Linked DNA regions of Homo sapiens: all the other regions are linked to region 2. The links come from fine-mapping of genetic effects on gene expression. A gene starts in region 2. Each other region holds a variant in brackets. All regions are shown on one strand. Distances are from middle to middle. Region 1 has its middle 24 kb from the start of ATRN. Region 2 holds the start of ATRN (attractin). Region 3 has its middle 28 kb from the start of DNAAF9. Region 4 overlaps LOC105372508 (a long non-coding RNA gene).

The links. PIP is the estimated chance that this variant, and not a neighbour inherited with it, causes the effect.
Region 1: its variant is the best candidate, but not a certain one, in a credible set for the expression of ATRN in nasal epithelium (TOPMed, PIP 0.69).
Region 3: its variant is the best candidate, but not a certain one, in a credible set for the expression of ATRN in blood mononuclear cells (TOPMed, PIP 0.82).
Region 4: its variant is the best candidate, but not a certain one, in a credible set for the expression of ATRN in macrophages (Alasoo 2018, PIP 0.55).

What each region holds. Positions count from the first base shown.
Region 1 is chr20:3,443,450-3,451,082 of GRCh38, forward strand. No RefSeq gene overlaps it. Among named protein-coding and RNA genes, the nearest start is that of ATRN, 24 kb to the right of the region's middle. The variant A/C (reference allele first, on the strand shown) is at 3,576.
Region 2 is chr20:3,466,578-3,474,210 of GRCh38, forward strand. It overlaps ATRN (attractin), which reads left to right and starts at 4,441. Exons shown (of 29, transcript NM_139321.3): 1 at 4,441-4,940. The coding sequence starts at 4,531. RefSeq lists an enhancer at 4,028-4,167 and a silencer at 4,268-4,827.
Region 3 is chr20:3,431,436-3,439,068 of GRCh38, forward strand. No RefSeq gene overlaps it. Among named protein-coding and RNA genes, the nearest start is that of DNAAF9, 28 kb to the left of the region's middle. The variant A/G (reference allele first, on the strand shown) is at 3,484.
Region 4 is chr20:3,420,268-3,427,900 of GRCh38, forward strand. LOC105372508 (a long non-coding RNA gene) reads right to left here. Exons shown (of 3, transcript XR_937212.3): 2 at 1,684-1,811. LOC105372509 (a long non-coding RNA gene) reads left to right here. Exons shown (of 3, transcript XR_001754709.1): 3 at 287-521. Among named protein-coding and RNA genes, the nearest start is that of DNAAF9, 16 kb to the left of the region's middle. RefSeq lists an enhancer at 336-405. The variant C/G (reference allele first, on the strand shown) is at 3,946.

The DNA of each region.
Region 1 (7,633 bases), 23 kb before region 2:
AGCTGGGACCCCCCACAAAGGCCTATACTCTCAGGATAAAGGTAAATCAGAACCAAACTTGTTCCCTTCCACTACCCCAGGGGAGTTTGGAGAAGGCCGTCTTGGTCCTGAACAAAGAGAAAAAAAGATAGGAGAAACAAACAAACAAAAAATCTGTCTTTGAGAATTTGTGGCTACTGATCAGTCCTGACTTGTACCTGGAACAGTCTGTGCTACCTGGAGGGGACAGCTGTGAACTTAGTTTGAGGAAGTCATTGAGTGATGAAACAGAAGCAAAATAGAAGGTCTCTCTGGAACTTGATATATCCATTCTGGGCCTTAGGGAGCACCTAAAATACATTTTCAAGGGTGATGACCAGCAGGAGGTCAAAGATAATAAACAAGAAAATAAGATAACATGAGAAAGAAACAGCAGAAACAACCAACTCTAGAAACAGATTCACACAGGCTTAGGATATTAGAATTGTCAGACAGATTATAAAAAGTACACTTAAAATATTTAAAGAAATAAATGAAAAGCCTGAAAAATATCTATAAGAGATAGCAAATGCTAAAAGTTGACCAACAAGTTTTAGAAAAATATCAATTAAAGTTTCTAGTAAATAAAACCTAGAATAACTGAAGTTATTCTAATAAGTTATTCTAGTAAATTTTAGAATTTACTAGAATAACTACTAAATATTATATTTACTAGTAATATAATAGTACTATTATAATAGTAATATTTATAGTGTTATATTAGTATATTCAACATCATATTAAATATAATATATATTATATTTACTAGTAATATAGTATTATATTTACTAGAATAACTAATAATTTTCTAGTAAATATTAGTTTACTAGAATAACTGAAGTTATTCAGTTATTAGAGTTTCTAGTAAATAAAAACTGGAATAACTGAAGTTTAAAGCTCAATGAATGCTGGGTGTGGTTCATGCCTGTAATCCCAGTGCTTTGGGAGGCCAAGGTGAGAGGAACCCTTGAGGTCAGGAGTTTGAGACCAGCCTGGGCAATAAAGCGAGACTCCATCTCAAAACAAAACAAAAAATTAGCCAGGTGTGGTAGCACATGCCTGTATTCTTAGCTACTTGGGAGGCTGAGGTTGGAGGATTGTTTCAGCCCAGGAGTTGGAGGCTGCAGTGAGCCCTGATTGTGCCAATGGACTTCAGCTTGGGCGACAGAGCGAGACTCGGTCTCTAAAAAATAAGAAATAGAATTCAGAAACAAATACTTTGTCATCTATAGACCATAACTAAATGAAAGTATAAGAGGTGTGTTTCTGGTAGAAAGAAAATGACTCTAATATAGAAGACCAGAGATGCAGAAAGAAATAATGAGTAACAAAATGGAACATATGTGGGTAAATATAAGTGTAAAATGTGGGTAAATATTAATGTACATTGGTCATTTAAAATGATAGTCATGATGTTTTGTTGGATAAAAACCATATGTAGGCAGGGTGTGGTGGCTCATGCCTGTAATCCCAGCACTTTGGGAGGCTGAGGCGGGCGGATCATGAGGTCAGGAGATCAAGACCATCCTGGCCAACATGGTGAAACCCTGTCTCTACTAAAAAAAATACAAAAGTTTGCTGGGCGTGGTGGTGTGTGTCTGTAATCCCAGCTACTCGGGAGGCTGAGGCAGGAGAATTGCTTGAACCATGCAGTTGGAGATTGCAGCAGTGAACTGAGATCACGCCACTGCACTTCAGCCTGGTGACAGAGCAAAACTCAGTCTCAAAAAAAAAACAACAAAAAACTACATGCATATGTGCAACAATGGCCATATGTCAGGTGTGTGTAAAAGGACTTAAAAGTGTTCTAAGGTCCTTGCATTGCCCAGGAGGAGGGTTAATGGATCAATTCACATTAGACTGGATGAGGCAATGATAAACATTATGATTTTGAGGGTCACTGCTAAATTACTAGAAAAAGATTGTTTAACATTCAAATTAGCAGAAACAAAAAATGGAATAATGAACTATATTAATCAGTCAGAAGGAAAGAAAGGAGAGGAATAGGTGTTAGAAAAGCTGAGACAGGCCGAGCACAGTGACTCACACCTGTAATCCCAGCACTTTGGGAGGCTGAGGCAGGAAGATCACTTGAGGCCAGGAGTTTGAGACCTACCTGGGCAACATAGCGAGACACGGTCTCTATATATTAAAAAAGAAAAAGAAGAACTGAGACAAATATAAGACTCATAATTCACAATGATAAAATGTCATTTTGGCTGGGTGTAGTGGCTCACACCTGTAATCCCAGCATTTTGGGAGGCAGGTGGATCACTTGAGGCCAGGAGTTCAAAACCAGCCTGGCCCACATGGCGAAACCCTGTCTCTGCTAAAAATATGAAAGTTAGCCGGGTGTGGTAGAACATACTCGTAAGCTCAGCTACTCAGGAGGCTGAGGCACAAGAATTGTTTGAACCCAGGAGGCAGAGGTTGCACTCTGTGAGCCGAGATCACACCACTGCACTCCAGCCTAGGTGACAGTGAAAGACTCCGTCTCAGAAAAAAGGCAATTTTCCAGGAAGATGTAATAATTCTAAATTTGTAGGCACCTACTAATATCGTCCTCAAAATAAAATGCTAAATCAACAGAACTAGAAGTAGAAATAGATGTGTCTATGATCATGGTGAGACATTTTAACATATTTCTTGCAGAAACTGACAAAATAGATCTACAGGCTTGTTGTTTGCCATTCTTTCTTTCTGCCTATTCTTTTCTTCCTTTCTCTTTTCTACTCTGAAATACAGGGAGCTACATGTCCTAGACTTTGGTTCAGCCGATAGGGGCATTCTCAGAAAACTAGCAGGTAGAGGGGGGAAAGCCATTTTCTCTCTACTTTGAGTGGTGTGTGTGTGTTTTCTCCACAGCCCCAGCTTCCACCTGGAAAAAATTAATTAACTAGAAAACAAGCATACAAAAGAGAGGATTAATGAAGCCACACATTGGTTCTCTGAAAAGACTAATGAAATTGATAAACCTTTTGTGATCCTGATCAAGAAAAAAGAGAACAGTCTCAGGAATATAACAGAGGCATCACTTCTGATCCTATAAATTCTAAAAACTAAAAAGAGGATATTATGGACACATTTTATATCAATCAATTTAAAAATTAAGGTGGAAATCCTAGGGAAAATACAAAAATGATACAAGAAAAAATAGAAAACTTGAAAAACTCCTCTAACTTTTAAAGTACCTGAATTCATAATTTAAAACTTCTCTTCAAAGAAAATTTAAGGCTCACATGGCTTTACTGGCAAGTCATATTAACATTTAAGGAATAAATAATTTCAGTCTTACACAGACTCCTTCGGGTAATAGAGAAAAAAGCATTTCCTTAATCACTACAGTAATGGAGCGTGATATTGGCTCAAGGTGGGAGGACTCGTTCTACCAGATACCAAGACTTACTAAAAAGTTAGAACCTGGGTGTGGTGGCTCATGTATGTAATTGCAGCTCTTTGGGAGGCCAAGGAGGAAGAATCGCTCAAGCCCAGGAATTTGAGGCCAGCCTGGACAAAACAGCGAAACCCTATCTCTACGAAAAAGAAAAAAAAAAAAA[A/C]CCACAAAAATTAGCTGGGCAAGGTGGTGAGTGCCTGTGGTCCCAGTGATTAGGAAGGTTGAGGTGGGAGGATCACGTGAGCCTGGGAGGTGGAGGCTGCAGTGAGTGGTGATCACGCCACTGCACTCCAGCCTGGGTGACAGAGCGACACCCTGTCTTAAAAAAATAATAGTAATAAAATAAATTTTTAAAAGTTAGTACTCAAGACAGTATGGTATTGGTGTTAAGATAGAAAACTAGACCATATTTAAACAATTTATGACAAAGATGGCTCTGCAGAGCAGCAGGGAAAGGAGAGCCTTTTCGGTTAAATGGTGCTGAAACAGAAAAGTTGGTATAGAGAAGTGGTTAGACAGGTGATGGAAATCTGAAAGATCAAAAAGAAGATGAGGTAACCCAGAGAAAAGTAACTCCAGTCTCTTCTAGCATTTAGGGAACAAATGTAGGGGAGGTGGTGCCACCAGAATCTAAGAGTGCAGAGAAAGGAGCTGGGCCCAGGGAGGAGGAACATGTTGCCAGAGCTTCAACTTTGAAGGAGGGGCCTCCACTTCAAAGAGGAAGAAGGAAAGACTGAGAAGAAAGGAAAAAGAAGAAAGACTTCTTTCTGCTGCCTTCTGATCTCCTGCCCATGTATCTCTTCTTGGAGAGCCTAATGGGAAACGATCAACAAGGAAGGCTGAGAAACATAATTCACAGGCCCCAGTCCCAGTGTTCACAAGCAGAAAATGGAAAGGTAAATTATCAGCACTAGTATCCATATGGAGAAATGAAAATTGACTTCTTTCTCATACCATACACACTATAACATCTAAATATTAAGGGCAAACAATGAAATGTTCAGAGAAAAAAATGTAGGAAAAATGTTTCACTGTCAAAGAGTAGACAATTTTTTTTTTTTTTTAGATGGAGTCTCTCTCTGTCACCCAGGTTAGAGTACAGTGGCACGATCTTGGCTCACTGCAACCTCTGCCTCCCGGGTTCAAGCGATTCTCCTGCCTCAGTCTCCCGAGTAGCAGGGATTACAGAGGTGCACCACCACACCTGGCTAAATTTTGTATTTTTAGTAGAGACGGGGTTTCGCCATGTTGGACAGGCTGGTCTCGAATTCCTGACCTCAAGTGATCTGCCTGCCTAGGCCTCCCAAAGTGCTGGGATTACACGTGTGAGCCACGGTGCCTGGCCTGACAAATATTTCTTAAACAGGTCACAAAAACCACTAACTATAAAGGAAACAATAAATTCAAGGACATAAAAATTAAGAATTTTTTTTTTTGAGTTTGGCTCTTTCCCCCAGGCTGGAGTGCAATGGCATGATCTTGGCTCACCGCAACCTCCACCTCCCAGGTTCAAGCAATTCTCCCGCCTCAGCCTCCCGAATAGCTGGGATTATAGGCATGCGCCACCACGCCCAGCTAATTTTGTATTTTTAGTAGAGACGGGCTTTCTCCACGTTGGTCAGTCTGGTCTCGAATTCCCGACCTCAGCCTCAGGTGATCTGCCCACCTCGACCTCCCAATGTGCTAGGTTACAGGTGTGAGCCACCGTGCCCGGCCTTTTTTTTTTTTTTTTTTTTTAAGAGAAAGGTTCTCATGTTGCCCAGGCTGATCTTGAGCTCCTGGGCTCAAGCAATCCGCCTGCCTCAGCCTCTCAAAGTGCTAGGATTACGGTGTAAGCCACTGCACCTGGCCCTGAAAATTAAAAACTTATGTCCACCAGAAGATGACATTGAATGAAGAGGTAAGCCAGAGAGTGGAAGATATTTGCCATATATGTGTCTGAGAAAGGACTTGTATCCAGAATACCTACTCATTTTTCTATTGAGTTGTTTGCTTTTGTCTAATCGATTTGTTAATTTATTACTTATCTATTTATTTTATTTTTATTTTTATTTTTTGACATGGAGTCTCGCTCTGTCGCCCAGGCTGGAGTGCAGTGGTGCGATCTCGGTTCACTGCAACATCTGTCTCCCGAGTTCAAACGATTCTCCCGCCTCAGCCTCCCGAGTACCTGAGATTATAGGCGCATGCCACCATGCCAAGCTGATTTTTGTATTTTTAGTAGAGACAGGGTTTCACCATGTTGGCCAGGCTGGTCTTGAACTCCTGACCTCAAGTGATCCACCCACCTCAGCCTCCCAAAGTGCTGGGATTACAGACATAAGCCACTGCACCCAGCCAATTTGTTAATGTATTTAAAAGTCAAGAATTGGCACTATAGGCCAGGCGTGGGTGACAAGAGCAAAACTCTGTCTCAAAAAAAAAAAAATTGGCACTATAAGCATGTTCCTTGGAACTATGGATGTAAATGCAAGGAGAAATAATTTTAGCACTCACCTTGGGTGGGATTGGGAAATGGAGTTTTTCTTTTCTTCCTTCCCCTCCCCTTCCCTCCCATCCTTGTCCCTTCCTTCCTTCCTTTCTTTTTCTTTCTAATAGGCTCCTGCTCTATTGTCCAGGCTAGAATGCAGTGGCATGACCAGGGCTTACTGCAGCCCCAGCCTCCTGGGCTCAAGGAATCCTCCTGCCTCAGCCTGCTGAATAGCTGGGACCACAGGTGGGTGCCACCATGCCTGGCTAATTTGTCATTCTTTTGTAGAGACAGCATCTCACTTTGTTGCCCAGACGGGTTGCTTTTCAGTTTGAGCTTCACAGCACTATTTTACTTTTTAAACCATTTTCATTTGTTGCTTTGGTAAGAATTAACAATTAGAAATCAATTTTAAAATTATTGAAAAAATAAAGAAAAATTGGCAGAATCAGATTAATGGAACACAAGACCAGAGAGAATCAAAACATACCAGTTAGAAGTTTAGGATCAAGTAAAAAGCAGGGCTTCCCAATGAAGTTAACCGATAATCCCAGCACTTTGGGAGGCCAAGGCAGGCAGATCACTCGAGGTCAGGAGTTCGAGACCAGCCTGACCAACATGGTGAAACCCTGTCTCTATTAAAAAAAAAATACAAAAATTAGCCAGTCATGGTGGCATGTGCCTGTAATCTTAGCTACTCAGGAAGCTGAGGCAGGAGAATGGCTTGAACCCGGGAGGAGGAGGTTTCAGTGAGCCGAGATCGCACCACTGCACTCCAGCCTGGGTGACAGAGCAAGCGAGACTCCATCTCCAAAAAAAAGAGAAGTTAACCAATATTTAAACAACAGGGAATTGTTACATGCATAGAAGAACAGATCAATGGAGCAAACTGCATAATCAAGAAACAGACCCACAGAAATGTAGAATTTAGCTTTAATGAATGCAGCATTTCCAACTGTTGGGAAGAAGAGAGTACTCAATATATGGTTTGGGGACAACAGGTTTTATATATTGGAAAAGAATTAAGTTAGGTTTCTACCTCATACCATCAATAAAAATAAATTCTAGGCGAAATATAGATCTAAAATGAAAATATCAAAAATTCTAAAAGCAAATATGTTGGAGGATTAAAAATTAAAATTCAGAGGGAGGAAAGTTTTCATAAGTGAGACACGAAAGGTTGAGATGAATATGGCAGCTGTTCAATACTTACAGGCTTTTTCTTCTTCCATTCTTCCATGACAAAACTCTTCTGTCTTGTGTGGAGCAGCTTGAGTAGTTTGAAATGCCTCATCCAGACACAGGAATGGATATACGATACACATCAGTCAGAGTGCCCAACCTGGTTCAAAGACTCTTCTGGAATTCCTACACCCAGTCTGTCATGACAGTCTCTCTCCCTTCCTTTGAAATCATGAACTATAAGAATATGGGCCATATTTCCAACAAGGTGAAGGGAACTTCAACAGAAAAGAAGCCCAGAGAACTGAGAGATTCAGAGAGAAATAGTTCTGTTTTTCTTTTTTTCTTTTTTTTTGAGATGGAGTCTTGCTCTGTCGCCAGGCTGGAGTGCAGTGGCACGATCTTGGCTCACTGCAACCTCTGCCTCCCGGGTTCAAGTGATTCTCCTGCCTCAGCCTCCTGAGTAGCTGGGACTACAGGCATCCGCCACCACACCAGCTAATTTTTGTATTTTTAGTAGAGACGAGGTTTCACCATGTTGGCCAGGATGGTCTTGATCTCCTGACCTC
Region 2 (7,633 bases):
GCAGTATTCAATCTTTGCTTTCTAGTAGGTATTTGATAAACAAACATTTGTTATATGTATTACACATACATGGAGCTATCTATTTGTATCTATTGGTACCCCTCCCAAATTTCCTTTATAGGATCCTTCTTACTGCTGTGAATGTTGTCTGCTGAAAGAGATGTGTGTACAAAATGCTGCTCCCTTACCTCAAAGTGGAATCAATTCTATGGTACAATTCATGCTCTAGGGCTCTCCATAGGATCAGGCTGAAGCTCAACTCTAGATAAGACCAGACCACATCTTTTCTCAACCCCCTCCTGGGCTCTATCTTGCTTCCTTCACTGTGTTTCTTCCGAGAGCAATCTTCCAATGAATTATGCACTCAGATCCTGTTTCAGGGTTCTGCTTCTAGGGAATCTGACCAAAGACACTGCATGAGTAAAAGCCAAAAATTATAAAATCCATCTATGTCCATGACTTGGAGACAATGCAAGCAAAGAAACAGGAAGAGATGACATGAAATCAGAGAAAGGGCCAAGGTGAGTAAGATGCCTTACTTAAGTGAAAAAGAATAGGCATAGGCACCTTCAAACCATCCTGCACTAACCTAGTGGAGACAAACCCTTTTGGTCATGCAGTTGGCAAGAACAATGTTATTTTAGTGTCTGGACTTAGAGTAATTTGTATCAAAGCCTGGGTATTCTTTGCCACTGGCATTACAGTTTCTGGGACCTGGAAATGACCACCATGACAAAGACCAGTGGAAAAAAAGGGATTTCAGGCAGAACTGCTGCAGAATCTTGCTGATAAGGCACTGGGGTACAACAGAGGCACTTCTGAAGCTACGGTGACTACGGTGACCTCCTTCATGAGAAGCAACTGGACAATGATACTAGTGTATTACATATAGATGACTAGTTGTAGATTATACATTTATATACAATTATACTGTCGTTCTTAATTCTTAATCAAGTCCACATCACAAGACTTATTCTTGTCCTTGGAGGAACCAGGGTACAGAGTATTCTGGTAATTTATTATTGTGTAACGAACTGTCCCCAGTTGGCTCATTTATTTGCTTATGTATCTGCAGTTTGGGGCGGGTTCAGCAGGAACAACACCCCCCTGCTTCATGATTGGGGCCCCAACTGGGAAGACTTGAATGGCTGGGGGCTGGCTTCCTCACAGCATGGTGGTCTCAGGGTAGCTGGACATCTTTTATGGCAAGTGTTCCAAGACACTTCAGGAGGAAGCTGCAAGACTTCTTATGACCTAGCATAAAGTCCCATTTCTGGGACCTCAGAAATCCCAGTACATCACTTCCACCATAGTCTATCAGTCAAGCAAATCACTAAGGCCAGGCTAGATTCAGAGTGGGGTGGGGGTGGGGGTGGGGGTGGGGCCGGGGCCAAGGGTTAGACCTGATCTCTCCATAGAAGGAATGTAAGAGAATTTGCAGCCATCTTTAATCTATCACACAGACATAGAATGTGTAGGGGACTTTTTGATAAACGCAGTAAAGGAAAAAGAAGATAGCAGGTAAGATTTTGTTTCTTTGTTTATTTGTTTTTAGAGACAGGGTCTTGATCTGTTGCCCAGGCTGGAGTGCAGTGGTCCAAACATAGCTTACTGCAGCCTCAAACTCCTGGGCTCTGTGATCCCCCTGCCCCAGCCTCCCAAGTAGCTGGGACTACACATGCACGCCACCACATCTGACTAATTTTTTAAAAAATTTTTTGTAGAGACAAGGTCTCACTATGTTGTCCAGGCTGGTCTCAAACTCCTGGCCTCAGGTGATCCTCCCACCTTGGCCTCCCAAAGCACTGGGATTACAGGCATGAGCCACTGCACCCAGCGTGTTTGTTTTTTAAGGACAAAATAATTTGAGCATGTTTGAAAGCTAAGGAAAAAGAACCAGAGAAGAGAGTAGATTAAGGAAGTAAGAAAGAATGTTTGCTGCAGCAAGATTCTAAGGCTTCAGAGTAGCAATATCTAGTCTAGGGATTGCTGTTCTTCAGATGCACACCTTTTCTGTTATCCCTGAATGTTGGTAAAATCATGTGAAACTTCACAGTGTGGGTTCAGTCTTGCTGTGGGGAGGGAAGGGAAGGAAAGGGCTGGTTCACTTCTGGCCTGGAAGATTAGGGGGAGCAATGTCTCCTACAGCTAGGGCATGGCCTATGCCAGCCTCCCCATCTGATGGGGTCCTGCCAGAGGGTAGGGCCATGTCTTCAATTTCAAAATCCTACATGGCAAAAACATAACCTGCAAACCAGAATGTCAGTGCTAGGGCCTAGGCCGAACAATAGTTTTCCTGTAGGAATGGGGAGTATGTGTGGATGTAGAGCTGGGGGTAAGGCTTTTGTGCAATTCAGCTTCACCAGGCTTGAAGAAGATGCAGTGAGGACAGTCAGGACCTGAGTATGAGAGTGGGACCTGGGTATGAGTGTGGAAATCCATCTTAGAACCTTAAAATTCCATACTCTGAGGTAAAGCTGAGAGGCTCCACAGGTCTATGAGGGTTTTTCTTTGTTTCCCAGGGACTGTAAGGTGCCCAGATTCTGAGGTAGGTGCCATAGGAATATTCCTCATAGCACAAGCATTATGTCGGACAATGTTCTGCTTATCTATTACTGAGTAACAAACCTCTCTAAAACTTAGAGGCTTAAAATAACATAAATCATAATTTATGAAAAATTATAAATAATTCATCACTTAAGGGTTAAATGATAAATGAGTTATTTCTTAGGATTTTGGATAAGTCACAGTTAGGAAAGACCTGTTACTGTTGTAGGTAACATGGAACAGCCCAGACGGTTGGAATAACCCAACCCAGATAGCTTCTTCACTCAATGACTGATCCCTTAGCTAGGATGGCTCCACCAGCTGAGCGGCCCAGCTCTCCCTCTCCAAGTCCAAGTGGTCTCTGCACATGGTTTCTCTCCAGCAAGGTGGCTAACGGGGTGCAGCTCATGACCACCAACAGCTCAAAATCAAGGCTGCCAGGTCTTTTTTTTTTTTTGAGACAGAGTCTCGCTCTGTCCCCCAGGCTGGAGTGCAGTGGCGCGATCACGACTCTCTGCAACCTCTGCCTCCTGGATTCAAGCGACTCTCCTGAGTAGCTGGGATTACAGGTGTGTGCCACCACGCCCGGCTAATTTTTGTATTTTTTGTAGAGACAGGGTTTCACCACGTCGATCAGGGTGGTCTCGAACTTCTGACCTCGTGATCTGCCCGCCTCGGCCTCCCAAGGTGCTGGGATTACAGACGTGAGCCACCGTGCCCGGCCAAGGCTGCCAGGTCTTTTTTAAGCTCAGAGCTAGAAACAAGACATTGCTACTCCTACCAACTTCTTCTATTGGTGAAATTGAGTCATGGTTTCTCATGGTCTCAATCATGACCCAGCCCAGATTCCAGGGTCAAGGACCATAAAAGGCTACATTGATGGAAGACATGTCTCATTGAGGGACACCAGAGTAACAACTACCAGACAAGAAGGGGCAGGTCTGTGTGAGCGCCATTTCCTAATTCTATATTGCCCACTCTTCAGAGAAGATGGTTGGAGGGCAAATTGTGGGGAGCAAGGTAACTCCAAACTTTTACAGAATTAAAGGTAGGGGGTCTGGTCAGCTACAGTCCATCTGTTATCAAGAGGCCTGGCTGTGTGTCTTCATTCAGTTTATTAGGCATTTACTGAGCACAGCCTACATGCCAGGTTCTTCATTTTTTGACACAGGGTCTTGTGTTGCCCAGGCTGGAGTGCAGTGCTGCGACTGCGGCTCACTGCAGCCTTGACCTCTCCAGACTCAAGCGATCCTCCTGCCTCAGCCTCTGGAGTAGCTGGGGATACAGGCGCGCACCACCATGCTCGGCTAATTTTTGTATTTTTAGTAGAGACAGTGTCTCACCCTGTTGGCCAGGCTGGTCTCGGATCCCAGAGATCAAGTGATCCGCCTGCCTCAGTTTCCCAAAGTGCTGGGATTACAGGCGTAAGCCTCCGCGCCCGGCCTATGCCAGGTTCTACATGTGTTCTTTCTTGACTCTTGTGTTACAGAGGCTCGAATGAAGCCTGGCTTCTACAGTACCGCACCCAGCACCTCGCTGCGATGCAGCCTCCTGTACCCTTTCCGTCCGGCAGCTGGAGTTAGGGCAGAGTGCCGGGTCTCTAGGAGGGCAACACTCAACGCAGTCGGCTCCTAGGCATCCAGTGGGGCTGCAACCCCGCCGCCGGGGACGAAAGGCGAAGGGGGAAAACTAGAGCTTTCGCCGGCCGGGACAGCGCAGCCGGGTTTCAGCTCGTTCTACGGTCCACGTCAGAAGATCGCCTCCGGCGCCGCGGACGCCGGAGACCACTGTCTGCGCCCCCGCACGCACGCACCCACGTACTCGCGCACGCGCGCGCCGGCCCCGCCCACCGCCCCGCTGTGGCCCCTTTGGACCGCACGAGCCACCGTCCGCACAGCCCCGCCCCGCACGGCCAGGCGAAGCGGAGCCGGCCGTGCGGTGTGTGTGTATGTGTTCGCGGGGCGCCGTCTCAGCCCCGGGAAGATGGTGGCTGCAGCGGCGGCAACTGAGGCAAGGCTGAGGAGGAGGACGGCGGCGACGGCAGCGCTCGCGGGCAGGAGCGGCGGGCCGCACTGGGACTGGGACGTGACCAGGGCTGGGAGGCCGGGGCTGGGGGCCGGGCTGCGCCTCCCGCGGCTGCTGTCTCCACCGCTGCGGCCACGGCTGCTGCTGCTGCTGTTGTTGCTCTCGCCGCCGCTGCTGCTGCTGCTGCTGCCCTGTGAGGCCGAGGCCGCGGCGGCGGCGGCGGCGGTGTCGGGCTCAGCCGCAGCCGAGGCCAAGGAATGTGACCGGCCCTGTGTCAACGGCGGTCGCTGCAACCCTGGCACCGGCCAGTGCGTCTGCCCCGCCGGCTGGGTGGGCGAGCAATGCCAGCACTGCGGGGGCCGCTTCAGGTGAGTGGCGGGTGGTGTCGGAGGGTCGGGTCCAACCAGAGGCTGGGGCTGAGGGGCGTTCGAGACGGCTCCAGGTCAGAGGGAGATGCTGGACAGAAAGTGGAGAGGGTAGGGCCGCCCTATGGGGTTTGAGGGCCATTTGCTTCCGGGGAGATCATCGTCTCTGGCCTGGGGTCTTTCTCTGTTGGAAGGTGAAAAGGTGTGGGGCAAGGGTGGGGGCACCCCGACGGTATTTGGGTGCTTAGGTTAGTTAGATGGGAAGAATGCTGAGGGACCCAAAGAGCATCAAAGCCGATCGCTCTAAAACTCGGCGTGTTTCAGCTAAACGAGGTATCCAAGGAAAGGTGGTCGAGCCAGGTTTGCTTGAACACTTCCTTTTAACATCCACATGTGCCCTAGGACCCGATGAGTTCCCCGATGCACTGGAGATGTGGGGTGCTCTGAAGAAACAGGGCCCTGGAAATGCTTTGTTGGCTGGAGATAAAAGGGAAAGGGTAGCATTGTAAGATATTAGGGATAGAAGGACCAGTGGTCCTTCTAAAGGAAAGTGAGGAAACTAGCCTTTTGGCAAAAGCTCCCTGGAGGTGGCAAATTGGAATAGGGTCTGTGGTGAAGAGGGAATGGAAGGAGATTCCTATTTGCCTTGGTTTCTGGACAATATGAAGTTCTGAATTGGCTTAGTTTGGGGCAGTTCCTCTTGGAGAAATCAATAAATTAATTAGCAGTTATCGTTATTTGCTTCAGTTGTGCAATGATTTTCCAGATAATACAGACAGATTAGCCAGACTTTGGCCTTGTCCACAGGGAGTTTGGAATATAGCAAGAGAAAGATAATGTGCGCACATAACCCTAGTCATAAGGGTTACAGAGTCATTCACGCCTTTGACAGGTATTTAGCTTACTGAACACATGTCTGATGTGGGGGAGTGGGGAAATGTGAACAAGACAGACAGGGCCTCTGCTCTCATTGACCTTAACATTCTAGTGGGAGCAACAGGCACTTAACAAGTAAATAAATGAGAGAAATAAACATGGTAATTTCAGGTAATGGTAAATGCTATCAAGAAAATAAAAACAGCGTGGTCTGATAGAGAATTATAACCGGTGGTGACTCTTGGAGAGGGTTCTCATTTGAAATGACATTTGATCTGAGACCTGAATGAGGCAACAGGGAACTTGTGGGAATTCAGGGATGGAGAGGTTGTGGCTAGCTGGAGGGATGCAAGGAGGACTTTGAGGAGGCGGTAACATTGGATTTGAGCATGTAAGGTTAAGTAGGATTTGGAAATGTGGAGCTGGAAAAAAATTACAGATGGAAAGAAGGGTGCAAACAAAGTTGTGGAGGCTGGAAAGTAAAGTTTTGCTGCTGCCTATGTGGAAGAGAGTTGTGAGAGAGGAGTTTGGAATAGCAAAATTGTAGACTTAGGTAATATTAGGTCTTCTGAGGAACTCAGAGAACGTTGAGCAGATGAGCTCTTTAGTTTTATGGATGGAGAAACCAAGTTACTTCAGGACCACTGATGCAGTGAAGCTGCTTTTGTAACTTAGGGTGTTCTGATTTATGAATTCCATTAACCTACATGTATTTGTTGAGGGCTCCTATGTTTTAGGTTGTGAGATACAGTGGTATACAAGACAGGCACAGTCCTGCTCTTACGGAGCTCACATTTCAGCTTGGGAGTAAAAAAATCCAACAAAAATTTTATTGTAATTTTGTTTAAGGCTGTGGAGGTAAAGAGCAGGAGACAAACAGAGGACTTGACTTAGTCTAGGGGTAAGGTAAGTCACTGAGGAAGCGATGTGAAGTCTGAGGGGTGAGATGGTACTACCTGCGTGAGGGGTGGGGTGCTGAGGGGCCAGCAGGTACAGAGGCTTGGGGTTGAAGCGGATGGAAGGCCAGGTGGCAGGAGCAGAGAGAGCAAAGGGGAGCTTGGCAAGACTGGAGAGAAAGGCGGGAAGCCAGGCCAAGTGGAGATCTGTGGGTTGGATTGAGAATTTTGACCTTTAGCCCAAGAGCTGTGAAATGGCGTAGTTCACGCCTATTTTCATGACATTATAGGCTTTTAGATTGGAGCCAGAATACAAATGGCCTTGAAGGTGAGGCCAGGGCATTTTCCATTTGAGAAGCTTCCAAGGTCAGGTGAATGGATGGTTGAGTCAGACGAGGATCCTTCAAGTTCTGAAAACCTGGGACACTGTGGTAGGCAGTGGGGACCAGCGGTGTGGGAAGGGGACTTCATAGCAAGATCAATCTGTAATGTTCAGAGTAGGTACACTCACTTTGGGCATGAGAGATAGGGGGCAGCTAGGTGGGATCTGTTGGCATGGGTCAGAGCAGTGGTAATGAGAGCTTGTAGAGGTGAAATGGACAAGTCTTCCGTGTAAACTGGTTTGCTCTTGGAAAGGTGGGGGATGGTGAGGGAAAGAAAACTAGATCCTGTCTTGGGTGGTTGAGAGGACAGTGATACCATTAACAGACACAGGGACACAGGAGCAGGTGTTAGACATTTAATTGCATGCATGCTGAGTTTGGGGTGCTCTCAGAGTACACACCTGGCAGATGTTAAGTTTGGAGTCATCGACCTATGAGGGAGATTGCCAGGGAGCTCTCTCTGAGAGTCCACATGGAAAGCCCAGAGGATTGGATAAGAGCTACTTGTTGCAGGGAACAGGCAGTCCTGACACTGGTTGTC
Region 3 (7,633 bases), 35 kb before region 2:
TGAAGCCAGAGCCCCACAGCTGAACCTGCAACCTATGAGTAGAGAATCAACGCTTGTTGTAAGTCCTTTTATTTCGATGTAGTTATGCAGGAGAAGCATGACTAGTAGAGTCTTTTAAAAATAAATACTCAGGGCCAGACGCGGTGGCTCATGCCTGTAATCCCAGCACTTTGGGAGGCCGAGGCGGGTGGATCACGAGGTCAGGAGATCGGGACCATCCTGGCTAACACGGTGAAACCCCGTCTCTACTAAAAATACAAAAAATTAGCTGGGTGTGGTGGCCAGTGCCTGTAGTCCCAGCTACTCGGGAGGCTGAGGCAGGAGAATGGTGTGAACCCAGGAGGTGGAGCTTGCAGTGAGCCGAGACTGCGCCACTGCACTCCAGCCTGGGCGACAGAGCGAGACTCTGTCTCAAATAAATAAATAAACAAACAAATACTCAGATCTTTGGGTTTTTATACTTGTCCCATTTTCAGAGGGTGTCTGGATGAACAAGGAGAGGTGGGTTTATGTGTCTAGCTCCTACTTGCTGACGTCTGTCACTGAGGAGATCCATCTTTTTCTGTTTGAGCTGGGTCTGATGACTTAGCCTCTCATTGGCTTTCGCTTGCCTTGTGGACACCTCTGAGTCCTGGTTCTGCCCCCTCTGTTCCCGTCCATGCTGATCAGTCCACTCAGCACCCTCTGCGGCCCCAGGACAGACCTACTGACTCTCAGCATTTGCTCTACCAAGGATCATAACAGGAGGCCAGTCGAGGCTGTAACCCTGCTTAACCATTCTGCACATTACTCTTAACTGGATTCAAGCAGGGCCATTCTACATGGTGGCCTCCTTCCAGAATCCCAAATATGGAATAGATCAAATGCCTCCTGCCCTTGAAGCCCAGTTGAATTATCAAACTACCTCTGCTTCTTCATGATTCAGTCTAGAACAGAGAGACTAGGGCCCATGTATTCCATAGTCATTCTCTGCTACCTCTCCCTCATTTTCTTCTCCATCATACCCTCAGGCCTAGGCCTAGGTTTTGAAAGCACACTATGGAAGAAATGCTCCAACCTCAGAGTCTTCATATGTCAAATGAAAACTAAAGGAATTTAGAAAACGATTTTCCTCTTGACAACATCTTGCTTTGGAGCCTATTGATTTGCAGTAAAACTCCATTGTGAATGTCCAAAGCTGCAAAAAAAAAAATTCCTCTTTGCTTATCCCCTGCAATATATCAAATCCTCCCCACCACCTTGATGGAATGGATAAGTTGTGATAGACATAGAGATATGCGGCCCAGATCTCCCTTCAGGGAAGAACTTGCTGCCTGGCTGCAGAGAATGTGGTCAGTCCCTCCAAAGGTAGCCAGTGTGCAATGACTGAGTCGGGTGGAGGCATAAAGACCTCCCTCTTTGGGGTCAACATGGGACACTTTAATGAGCAATTCTCACTCAAAAACTCCCTGCCGTGTTGGCTGAAGCTTTATTAGGCCTGCATCACAGTTTAACTTCTTCCTCTCCCTAGTTTGGCTTCTGCCCCCTTCTTTTCCATAATAAGCGTGTTTTGTTTGTTTGTTTGCCTGCTTGCTTGCTTTTTGAGACAAGGTCTTGTTCTGTCACCCAGGCTGGAATGCAGTGGCATGATCACGGCTCATTGCAACCTTGACCTCCTGGGCTCAAGTGATCCTCTCACAGAGTTGGAATTACAGGTGTGAGCCACTACACCTAGTCTTTAAATCTTTAAAGATTTGAAGTATGGAATTGGAAAAGAGGAGACAAAATTATCTAGATTTTCAGGGGATATCAACATATACTTGTAAACTCCAAGGAAACCTTGTGGTGGATAGAAAATACTCATTTCCACCCTCTCCAGAAACCTCACTAAAAAGGTGGTAAAGAGTTCTCTTAAAGATATAAAAGACAAAGATAAAGGATATGAACAAATTGTACATATAAAAAATGTTGAGCTGAGTGTAGTGGCTCACACCTGTAATCCCAGTACTTTGGGAGGCCAAGGCACATGGATTGCTTGAGCCCAGGAGTTCAAGACCAGCCTCATCAACATAACAAGACCCTGTCTCTACAAAAAATTTTTTAAAAAATAGCTGGGCATGGTGTCACATACCTATAATCCCAGCTGCTCAGGAGGTTGAGGCAAGAGAATTGCTTGAGCCTGGGAGGTCGAGGCTACAGTGGGTTGTGTTGGTGCCATTGCACCCCAGCCCTGGTGACAGAACAAGATCCTGTCTCAAAAAAAAAAATATTAAATGAAAAAAGCAAGATGGAGAACACTGTACCTAGCATGCTATCATTAGTATAAACAAAAGACAGGTAGAGTCTGGATAACTGAGGGGAGCAGGAGGTCCCCAGGAAGGCCTGTTTTCCAAGGAAAGAGGAGGAACAGAGAGGACAGTGAGGGTGAGGGCGGCTGCTGTCTCCTAAATCTGTCACCTCCCCTTCTCTGCTTTGGCAGCCATTATGTCCATGGGTCTCTGGCTTGTCTTGTGCAATACTTCCTTGTGTTAAACTCCAAGATATCAATGGGCTGATGAGAGTTCCAGCGTGAGCTACGTGACTGGATGGGTGCTTGGAATAAGAATCCCATGCCCCAGAGAGCAAGACCAGCAAGACAATACTGACTAAGCCACTTTCCCCTGTAAGCCACCCTGGACCCACTTCTCAGTCCTAAGGACTAATGACATAAACTGGATGATGGTCACATAAAAATCTTGGTGAGATGCTGGAAGTCTAAAGTGGTCCCTTTGGGATCATAATGTAAGAAAGTGGCTTCAAGGCATATTTCAGCATAGAGTAACCTTGGCATTGGAAGCACTTTGCAAAAACATAAGAGGCCATGCTAACTCTTTTCATACAACAGAGGCCTGGCAGGTGACATTTCCAGAGGGAGAATGGAAGATTCTGAGAGCACTGCACAAGAGTCTCCCTTAGACACTTCTAGAACATATAGGAGGCTGTGGTAGAAGGGAACTGAAAGTTCAAAGTGTTGATCATGTGCACTGACTAAGCCTTTGTATTTAAAATCAAGATGACATCATAACGGCCTGATTTTCTTTCTTTCTTTCTTTCTTTTTTTTTTTGAGACGGAGTCTCGCTCTGTGGCCCAGACTGGAGTGTAGTGGCGCAACCTCGGCTCACTGCAACCTCTGCCTCATGGGTTCAAGCGGTTCTCCTGCCTCCCCAGGTAGCTGGGATTACAGGCATAAGGCACCGCACCTGGCCAACCTGATTTTCTTAAAAATAAATCTGGGTTTAGATTATTGGTAGAAACATTAAGTGATGTTGTGTCTTCTCAGTGCAACACACCAGTCAATTTTCACGTTGATGGTGATGCTAAGTGTAATCTGATGGTCAACGTGGTGACCTTCAGCTCTCTCTGTGGTAAAGATACGTTTTCCCTTTTGCGATTACTAAACAGCCTGTAGGGTGATACATTCAAACCTTATGAATATCATTTTTCCCAACCCCCTTTATCCTAAT[A/G]GTTTTACATTCCATTGATGATGCCTGCCTGAATCAATTATTAATAGACTGGTCATAAAATGATGATTTTTCCATTTCTATCATTCCATCTACATTCACAATTTGGCATTCTTTTATGAAGAAGAGCTTTCTTTTCTTTTTTTTTTTTGAGATGGAGTCTCACTTTCTTGCCCAGTCTGGAGTGCAGTGATGCCATCTTGGTTCACTGCAACCTCTGACTTCCAAGTTCAAGCAATTCTCCTGCCTCAGCCTCCCAAGTGGCTGTGATTACAGATGGGCATCAGGACGCCTGGCTAATTTTTGTATTTTTAGTAGAGATGGGTTTTTGCCATGTTGGCCAGGCTGGTCTTGAACTCCTGACCTCAAGTGATCCACCCACCTCAGCCTCCCAAAGTGCTGGGATTACGGGTGTGAGCCACCTCACCTGGCCCTCTTTTCTACCCCCTTTAAAATTTTTGGTGTTGGCCAGGTGCAGTGGCTCACGCCTGTAATCCCAACATTTTGGGAGGCTGAGGTGGGAGGATTGCTTGAGCCCATAAGTTCGAGACCAGCCTGGGCAACATAGCAGGATCTTGTCTCTATTAAGAAAAATAATAATAAAATAAAATACCATTGTTGGTTGTTTTATTTATTTATTGTGGTGGTTGTTGTTTTGAGACAGAGTCTCTCTCTGTTACCCAGGTTGAAGTACAGTGACATGATCATAGCTCACTGTAACCTCGAACTCTTGGGCTCAACTGATACTCCTGCTTTGGCCTCCCAAAGTGCTGCGATTACAGGTGTGAGCACAGGCCAAAATTTTTGGTGTTAATATCAATAGAGACACATGGATTCCTTTTGATTCAATATATAATAATCCATTCCTGCATTATTCATATGAGGCTGAGATTGTCCCAGATTTTGACATGAGGGCCTCCATAAAAATGTAGATTGCAAGCCACCTTCTCCCTCTCCTCCAGTGGGGCCTGGGATTCTGCATATATAACTACCACTAAACTAAAATCTGAAACACCCACTAAATCTGAAAAGTTGAGGAAAAGCCCTTGCCAAGGACCAGCTGAGGAGTTTATGTTAAGAGTGGTTTCACACCCACCAGGCAATACAGCTAGAACTTGACAAGGGCATCCTCTGAGGCAAAGAAGGCCAGAATGCCAGCAAACGAAGATGCATCTTCTGGAGGTGGAAGGGGGTGAGGAAGAAATGGAGAGGTCAGGGCTGGAAAGGAGATGCTTATGGTTTTTTTCCTGCCTTGGGAAGACTATAGCAGACAAGATACCTATTAATTCTTGCAACATTACAGCAATGGTTTTTCTGAGTAATAGGAACAGTTTGCTTCTATCCCCAAAGATGGAGAGCTCTTTGCTATTTGGAACCAAGTGTTGATATAGTCAGGAAAAGACCTGGATCAAGGGAGTGTATAAAGCACACAAGTGCACACTGTCACTCTTGCTGAACACTCCTGGTGAAATGTAGAAAAGACATGAAAGAGGGAAAGTAATACATCTACAGCAGCATCAGGAAACTGAAAAGCCAAAAGGCCAGGCATTTGATGAAAGTCCTGGACAATAGAGAGCAGGAGGAAATGTGGGATCAAAAAAGCAGAACTGGGCCAGGCTTGTTGGCTCACACCTGTAATCCTAACAATTTGGGAGGCTGAGGCAGAAGGATTGATTGAGGCCAGAAGTTTAAGACCAGCCTGGGCAACATAGTGAGACCCTGTCTCTACCAAAAAATAATATAAAATAAAAATTTTTTAAAAGTGGGGAATTGAGTCCATGCATTTGGGCCTACGTCCTCTCCAAACCTCACTAAAATAACAGTTAAAAAATAAAAAGGACAAAACTCACAAGGACAAAAAGAACAGACATTGAAACAAGATTGAGCTAGTGATGTCGAGAATAAATATTTCAGATGTTCTAGGCCAGGCATGGTGGCTCAGGCCTGTAATCTCAGTATTTTGGGAGGCTGAGGCAGGTGGATTGCTTGAGCTTGGGAGTTTGAGACCAGCCTGGACAACATGGTGAAACCCCATCTCTACCAAAAAAAAAAAAAAAATTACAAAAATGAGCCAGGCGTGGTGGCACACACCTGTGGTCCCAGCTACTCAGGAGGCTGAGATGGGATGATAGCTTGTGCCTGAGAGGTCAAGGCTGCAGTGAGCCATGAACACGCTGCTGCACTCCAGCCTGGGCAACAGAGTGAGACCCTGTCTCAAAAAACCAAACAAAACACATATTTCAGACATTCTCACCTGACACAGGTATTAAAGAGGAAATGATTCCACACTTGGGAAAATGGCAAAATTATGATTGCCTAATTCCTGAGATCTTAGGGGAACACTTTTTCAAACCCTGTTTCAATAAAAGCAGAACCTGCATCCTGGGAATTTACCCTCATGGGACACACCAGGGGAATGAAATTCCATTGCCACAATGTATGTAATCAATCCATAATGATTGAAGAAACAGACAGTTTTATGGTTCTATAAAGTTACAGTTTAACTTTAGAGACTAATAGGTTCTATGTTTTTATAGCCTGGTATAGTTTAACTTTAGAGACTAATAGGTTCTATGTTTTTATAGCCTGGTTGTGTGGTTAAATACAATGATTTTATTGCCCTGTGGAAAATTAATCAGTCTTGAATTTTACCCAGCAAATTGTCCTTGGAATTCCTTTAACTCTAGCTCTGTTCGTTTGTGCGAGCACACGAGGGTACACACACACACACACACACACACACACACACACACACACACACACAGAGTTTTTCTTTTTTTTTTTTTGAGACGGAGTCTCGCTCTGTCGCCCAGGCTGGAGTGCACTGGCGCAATCTCGGCTCACTGCAAGCTCCGCCTCCCGGGTTCACGCCATTCTCCTGCCTCAGCCTCCCGAGTAGCTGGGACTACAGGCGCCCGCCACCACGTCCGGCTAATTTTTTGTATTTTTAGTAAAGATGGGGTTTCACCGTGTTAGCCAGGATGGTTTCGATCTGACCTCGTGATCTGCCCGCCTCGGCCTCCCAAAGTGCTGAGATTACAGGCTTGAGCCACCATGCCCGGCCTCTTTGACATTTCAGTGTGTGAGTCCATCAGAGCATAACTGTTATTATCTTTCTTCTCTTTTTTTATCTTTGAGATGGAGTCCTGCTCTGTCGCCCAGGCTGGAGTGCAGTGGTGCAATCTCGGCTCACTGCAACCTCTGCCTCCCAGATTCAAACGATTCTCCCGCCTCAGCCTTCCGAGTACCTGGGATTACAGGTGCATGCCACCATGCCAAGCTGATTTTTGTATTTTTAGTAGAGACAAGGTTTCACCATGTTGGCCAGGTTGGTCTCAAACTCCTGACCTCAAGTGATCTGCCCTCCTCAGCCTCCCAAAGTGCTGGGATTACAGGTGTGAGCCACCATACCCTGCCATAACTGTTATTATCTTGAAAGCATGTGTTTTTATGGGTACTGGGACATCTGAACTCTCTGACGGAGGAGTGCGTCCTCGTAGGTGTCTTTATGGTCTTTCCTCAACTATAAACATCTGTAATCATGGGTAGTGACTGGCAAGGAATGTGCCCTGTTAGTCTCCAGATGGAGCTGAACTTTTAATTTGGCTCTTCTAGGCTCCTGCTTCCCTAACACAAAGTCACAAGTTTCTGCATTGAAAGGTCTTACCAGGAACCTAGAACAATGAATTAATTAAAAAATATCCACACAGGCTGGGCACAGTGGCTCACGCCTGTAATCTCAGCACTTTGGGAGGCTTAGGTGGGAGGATTCCTTGAGGCCAGGAGTTTGAGACCAGGCTAGGCAACATAGAGAGACCCCATCTCTACAAAAAATTTAAAACATTAGCTAGGCATTGTGGCATGTACCTGTAGTCCTAGCTACTTGGGAGGTTTAGGCAGGAGGACTGATTTAGCCCAGGAGTTTGAGGCTGCAGTGAGCTATGATTGTGCCATTGCATTCCAGCCTGGCGACAGAGTGTGACTCTGTCTCAAAATACATACACACACACACACACACACACACACATACGCACACACAGAAATTAGTATGAATTCATATTTATGTGTGTGTGTGTGCATATACACACACCCACAGATGAGTAAATACAGAAATAACTTTAGAAATAAATGTGTGTCTAAATGGATTAGTATA
Region 4 (7,633 bases), 46 kb before region 2:
TCAGAAGAAATGACATTTGTGGAGGGAGTCCGGAAGCTGAGTGATAATGAAAGCTATAATTCAAAACCACACTAAGCACTCTTCATGTCATCCTCTGTGGTAGCCAGCCAAGATGGCCCCCAGTGATCCTCAAGTCCTGTGTTCATGCCTTTGTATAGCCTCCCTCAATACTGAATCATGCCTGGCCTGTGACCAATAGAGTATGGCACACATTGTGACTTCCAAGGCTTGGTCATGAAAGACATATGCAACTTCCTTTTGCTTTCTCTTGCATAATCTGTTCTAGACAAAGCAGCTGCCGTTTTATGAGGACACTCAAGCAGCTCTATGGAGAGGCCCACGTGGTGAGAAACTGAGGCCTCCTGCCAAAAACCAGCATCAACTTGTCAGTCATGTGACTGAACCATCCTGGAAGCAGATCTTCCCACTCCAGTGAACCCTGCAGTTGATCACAGCCCCAGTGGATACTTTGGCTGCAGAGAGACCATGATCTAGAACCAATTAGCTAAGTTGCTCCTGAATTCCTGACTCACAGAAACTGTTTGATTAAGATAATAAATATCTTATGTTGTAACAAGTCACTAAATTTGAAGGTAATTTGCTATTCAGCAATAGATAATTAATACAACAGTTCTATAAGGTAAGAATGAGGTATTATCTCCACTATACAAATAAGGAAACAGCCTCAGAAAGGTTAGGTGACTTGCCCAAATTAACTGTCAGAGAAGATTTTTTTCCCTTGACAAATAATTTACATTTTATGGCAATTTCCATGGAGAGGCTAGGTGCAGTGGCTCAATCCTGTAGTCTCAGCACTTTGGGAGGCTGAGGCGGGAGGACTGCTTGAAGCTAGTAGTTCAAGACCAGCTGAGGCCACATAGTAAGACCCCTGTTTCTACAAAAAATTAAAAAAAAATTTTTTTTTTTGAGACAGAATTTCGCTCTTGTTGCCCAGGCTGGAGTGCAATGGCGTGATCTCGGCTCACTGCAACCTCTGCCTCCTGGGTTCAAGCGATTCTCCTGCCTCAGCCTCCTGAGTAGCTGGGATTACAGGCACCTGCCACCACGCCCGGCTAACTTTTGTATTTTTAGTAGAGACAGGGTTTCACCATGTTGGCCAGGCTGGTCTTGAACTCCTGACCTCAGCTGATCTGCCCACCTTGGCCTCCCAAAGTGCTGGGATTACAGGCGTGAGCCACTGCACCTGGCCAAAAAATTTTTTTAATTTGAAATTTATATTTTAAATTTAAATTGCTCACACCTGCAATCTCAGCACTTTTGGAGGCTGAGGCAGGTAGATCGCTTGAGTTCAGTAGCTCAAGACCAGCCTGGGAAACGTGACAAAGCTCCATCTCTGCAACAAATACAAAAGAATTAGCCAGGCATGGTGGTGTGCGCCTGTAGACCCAGCTAATTGGGACGCTGAGGTGGGAGGATCGCTTTAGCCTGGGAGACAGAGACTGTGGTGAGCCAAGATCGCGCCACTGCACTCCAGCCTGGGCGACAGAGCAAGGCCCTGCTGTCTCAAAATATTAAATAAATAAATACATTTATTTCCATGGAGAAACAATAAAGAGAAACATCAAAACTCAGATGGCAAACCTCCTCAGCCCTTCCTGAACCTTTTTCCTCCCCAGCATTCCAACATTTCTCTCAAAAACTCTCAAGCCTGCCCAGCTTTACCTCTAGCCTCCCTCTTGCATTTCCCACTCAGCAAAGCAAAAAGGTGGCTGCATTCGAACTGAGTTTCGATTCCAGCTCTAACTTCAATGTCCATGTTCCTAACCACTCTGGTTCCCAGAAGGGTTTCTCTAGGAAGAAAAATAAGGGAAGGGCATTAGACGTAGAGAAAACAACAAATGCAAAGAAGCGAGGGTTTGACAGAATCTGGCTGCCTCTGAGGGAGTGGAGGGACAATGGTTCAGCGGGGCTAGAGAGCAAACTTCCTGGGAAAGGAGGTGGCAGGGTGAAGCAGGAAAGGAGTTCGTAGCCAGTGTGTAGAAACCCATAGGCCATGTCAACAATTTTGAATTTCTCTACAACAAAAAATTTTAGGCAGGGGAGAAAGTTGCTTGTGTCTGAATTTCCAAAAGACTCTTTAGGGAAAGAAATCATTGTATTAAAAAGAGACTTGCACTGGAATATTTATTGCAGCACTGTTCACAATAATCACAAAGACAGGGGATCAACCTAAGTGTTTGTCAAAGGAGAATTGGATAAAATGTAGTATGTGCATATACCATGGAATACTGTAATACTTAGCCATAGAAAAGAATGAAGTCATATCTTTTGCAGCAACATGGATGGAACTGGAGGCCATGATCCTAAGTGAAATAACTCAGGAACAGAAAGTCAAATGCCACATGTTCTCACTTATTAGTGGGAGCTAAATAATGTGTACATATAGACACACAGAGTGGGATAATAGACATTGGAGACTACAAAAGGTGAGAGGGTGGGAGAAGGGTGAGGATTGAAAAATTACCTATTGGGTACAATATTCACTATTCAGATGATGTGTACACTAACAGCCGAGACTTCACTGCTAAGCAATATATGCACGCAATAAAGCTGCACTTGTACTCCATGTATATATAATAGATAGTAAAATGTATTATATATTAAAAATGTATAATATATTAAACATATATAATATATTGTATATGTTATATATAACATATGTCATATATTATACAACATGTTAATCACATTAACATATAGTTATATATTATAATATATATTATCTAATATATTTTAATATATAATCTATAATATATTTTTATATAATTTGTTTTCCTAAATATATTTCACATATATTTTATATAATTATGTATTAATATATAATATATATTTATTATTATATATAAATATGTGTTTATATATATTACATATATATTTTTAAGACCATTCGGTAGCTTAGCAGACACTGTTAGTGCTCCTTGGCACTTACCATTTCCTTGCACGCTGGGTCAGGAGGCTAGAAGAGCTGGGGAATTAATGCCTGCTAGGAGCTGAGCTCTCAGTCAATGACTGAAGGAAGTTGCGTAAATACCCCAGCTTCTCACTTGTCAGGTAGGATAACTCTGGGACACACATTCTGTAGCTATTCTAAGGGTTTCCCAGCAGGATTAAGCTCCAGTTGCCCATTTGCTTGATAATGTGCAATCGACTGCTCTCCCTTCCTTGAATCTCTTCCCCACTCTGCTGCTCGTTTTCCTAGGATTACCTCCCACATAAGGTACTTGCACTCAAATCCTTACCTTAGGTCCACTACTGAGCAGCAGGAGGAGAGGGACTATGAACTAAAACAGACAGAATAAGAAGTAATATATACCATGATTATTAGAATGCTCATTACAACATTGATTCTTTCCATGTTACCCTGTGAATTAAATGCAATTTCTAACAAAATCCCAACAGAATATTTTAAAAGGAACTTTAAAAACTGATCCCTGGCAGGGTGCAGTGGCTCACGCCTGTAATCCCAGTACTTTGGGAGGCCGAGGTGGGCTGATCACCTGAGGTCGGGAGTTTGAGACCAGCCTGACCAACATGGAGAAACCCCGTCTCTTCCAAAAATACAAAATTAGCCGGGCATGTTGGCGCGTGCCTGTAATCCCAGTTACTTGGGAGGCTGAAGCAGGAGAATCGCTTCAACCCCAAAGGCAGAGGTTGCAGTGAGCCGAGATTGTGCCATTGCACTCCAGCCTGGGAGACGGAGCGAAACTCCATCTAAAAAAAAAAAAAAGAAAGAAAGAAAGAAAAAAACCCCCCGCTCCCTAAGGTCATTCATAGGAAAGTTCTTTGCGGAAAAGATGAACAAGGAGAGAGAACTTGCCCTACCAGATAGCAGGATTTACTATAAAGCTATTAGCCATTAAGATTTACTACAGGCCGGGTGCGGTAGCTCACGCCTGTAATCCCAGCACTTTGTGGAGGCGGGTG[C/G]ATCACCTGAGGTCAGGAGTTCAAGACCAGGCTGGCCAACCTGGTGAAACCCCGTCTCTACTAAAAATAAAAAAAATAGCTGGGCATGGTGGCGGGTGCCTGTAATCCCACCTACTCAGGAGGCTGAGGCAGGAGAATCACTTGAACCCAGGAGGTGGAGGTTACAGTGAGCTGAGATCACGCCACTGCACTCCAGCCTGGGCAACAGAGTGAGACTTTGTCTCAAAAAAATAAAAATAAAAAAGAGATACCATTATACCCATTAATTTGAGAAAAGAATTTTAAGTTTGATATTATTTAATGTTACCAGGAGACCAGCTTGGCCAACATGGTTAAACCCTGTCCCTACTAAAAATATAAAATTAGCTGGGCGTGGTGGCGGGCACCTGTAATCCCAGCTACCTGGGAGGCTGAGGCAGGAGAATCGCTTGAACCTGGGAGGCAGAGTTTGCGGTGAGCCATTGCACTCCAGCCTGGGCGACAAGAGCGAAACTCAGTCTCAAAGAAAAGGTCAAATATACAGAGACAGAGAATAAAAGCGGCTACCAGGGGTAGGGTGATGAGGAAGAGATTGAGAGAGATGTCAAAGGATCCAGAGTAGCAAATATGTAAATTGAACAAATTTCAAGATCCAATGTGTGATTCCATAAGGAATATAGTTTTTTGGTTTTGGGGGTTTTTTTGAGACAGAGTCTCACTCTGTCACCCAGGCTGGACTGCAATGAAGCAATCTCAGCATTTCAACCTCTGCCTCCAGGGTTCAAGGAATCCTCCTGCTTCAGCCTCCCAAGTAGCTGGGACCACAGGTGTGTACCATTATGCCCAGCTAATTTTTGTATTTTTACTAGAGACAGGGTTTCACCATGTTGCCCAGGCTGGTCTTGAACTTCTGGGCTCAAGCGAGTCTCCGCCCTTGGCCTCCCAAAGTGCTAGGTTTACAGGCATGAGCATTTGCGCCTAGCTGAGGACGACAATTAGTAATTTATTTTATCAGGATTTTTGCTAAATGTGCAGAGTATAGTTGCTCTTGCCACTGTGGGAAAAATGGGTAACTATGTGAGATGATGGCTACGTTAATTGGTTTCACTATGATAAATATTTTACTATCTATATATACATGTATCTCATAACATTACGCTGTACATCTTAAATATTCACAATAAAATTCATTAAAAAAAGAATTAGGATAGGCAATTCACAGATGAAGAAACTCAACGTATGTAAATATGCTCAATATCATTAACAATGAGGGAAAAGACAAGTTAAAAACAATGAGATGCCGGCCAGGCACGGTGGCTCATGCCTGTAATCCCAGCACTTTGGGAGGCTGAGGCCAGTGGATCACGAGGTCAGGAGTTCGGGACCAGCCTGACCAACATGGTGAAACCCTGTCTCTACTAAAAATACAAAATTAGTTGAGTGTGGTGGCAGATGCCTGTAATCCCAGCTACTCGGGAGGCTGAGGCAGGAGAATCGCTTGAATCTGGGAGGCAGAGGTTGCAGTGAGCCGTGATTGCGCCACTGCACTCCAGCCTGGGCGACAGAGCAAGACTGTCTGAAAAAAATTAAAAAAAAAAGAGATACCATTATATCCATTAATTTGAGAAAAGAATTTTAAGCTTGAGATATTATTTAATATTGCCAGGATATGGAATGGGAACTCTCATACACTTCTGTGGAAAGTATAAATTGGTATAACCGCTTTGGACAGCAATTTTATAATATGTGAAGTAGAAGATACATTGGCTGGATATGGTGGCTCATGCCCATAATCCTAGCATTTTGGGATGCTGAGGCAGGAGGATTGCTTGAGCCCAGAGTTAGAGAGCTGCTAGAGACTAGCAGCCTAGGAAACATAGCAAGACCCTGTCTCAAAAAAAAATTAAAAAGATACATATATGTCCCTAAAACCCAGAAATTCCACGTCCAAAGAAACTCTCAGCTGGGCATGGTGGCTCACGCCTGTAACCCCAGCACTTTGAGAGGCCAAGGCAGGCAGATTGCTTGAGGTCAGCAGTTCGAGACTAGCCTGGGTAACATCAGGAAATCTTATCTCTGCAAAAAAATACAAAATTAGCTTGGCGTGGTGACATGTGCCTGTGGTCCCAGGTGCTCAGGAGGATAGTTGGAGCCCAGGAGGTCGAGACTGCAGTGATCTGTGATTGTGCCACTGCACTCTAGCTTGGGCGACAGATTGAGATACTGTCTCAAAAAAAAAGAAGCTCTTGCATATGGAAACATGTGAAGTAAAACCAAAGATGTTTATCCATGTTCTTTGTAATAGTGAAACTGGTGGGGAGCGGGCGGGGCAGGGGGCAGGGATTTAATATCCATCAAGGGGGTCTCAAATGTGAAACATAAACCAAACATGGAAGAGTTATACAAGGTAATATTATACAATTAAAATGAATGAATATGGTTGAATCTTAGAAACACAGGGTTTAATGAGCTACAAAAGAATATTTATAATTTGACACCATTAATATAAATTAAAATAAACATAACCAAAACAATACTATGTACATAGCAAAGGTATAAAAACCATGAGTGGTTGTTCAGACTGGGAAGGTGAACTCAGTAAGTACATTTTCATCTGCAATTTTTTATTATTTAAATTTTATTTATTAATGTTTTTAAGAGACAGGGTCTTGCTCTGTTGCCCAGGCTGGAGTGCAGTGGTATAATCATAGCTCGCCGAAGCTGCAACCTCCCAGACTCAAACAATCCTCTCACCTCAGCCTTCCGAGCAGCTTGGACTACATGTGTGCACCACCACACCTGGCTAGTTTTTAAAATTTTTGTAGAGATGGAGTCTTGCTATGTTGTCCAGGCTGGTCTTGAACTCCTGGGCTCAAGCAGTCCTCCCATCTCAGCCTCCCAACATGTTGGGATTACAGACGTGAGCCACCATGTCTGGCCTCAATTTTTATTTCCTTAAAAACAGGTTTGATACAAATATGACAAAAATATCAACATTTGTTCATTTGGATGATTGGTACCCAGGTGTTTGTTATATTGGCCTTTTTTCTTATCAGCATATTTAAACTTTTTCAAATAAAGGAGTACTTCTAAATCACTACAAAAATATAAACACCCCCATCAAAAATGGCCAAATGATACAAAAAGCTAATTTGTTGCTAAAAAAGGGTCTTGATCCAGACCCCAAGAGAGGGTTCTTGGATCTCATGCGGGAAAGAATTCAGGGTGAGTTGTAGAGGACAGTGAGAAAAGACCATTTGTTAAAAGCTACTCTTACAGAATTGGGGGTTCTCAGGAAACAGGAGGAACGTGCTTACTTTTAACCTCTTCTTATATAGGAGTCTTGTCTATGTAAAAGGTAAACTAAATTATGGTTACGTGCAGGTGGGCTGACAGCATGACAAAATTTAGTACTTTGCTGATTTAAAGAAGGCTATCCTTGGCATTTTAGTGCATCACTTAAAAAAATATATTGTTATGTGATATTGGGACGTGTGTACATTCTGCCATTGCAGGAGTTTGTCCTTGCAAAAAAATACAAAATTAGCTTGGCATGGTGGCATGTGCCTGTGGTCCCAGATGCTCAGGAGGATAGTTGGAGCCCAGGAGGTCGAGGCTGCAGTGATTCGAGGCATTTTAAAGCTTTCTTTCTTTCTTTTTTTTTTTTTGAGACGGAGTCTCTCTCTGTCACCAGGTTGGAGTGCAGTGG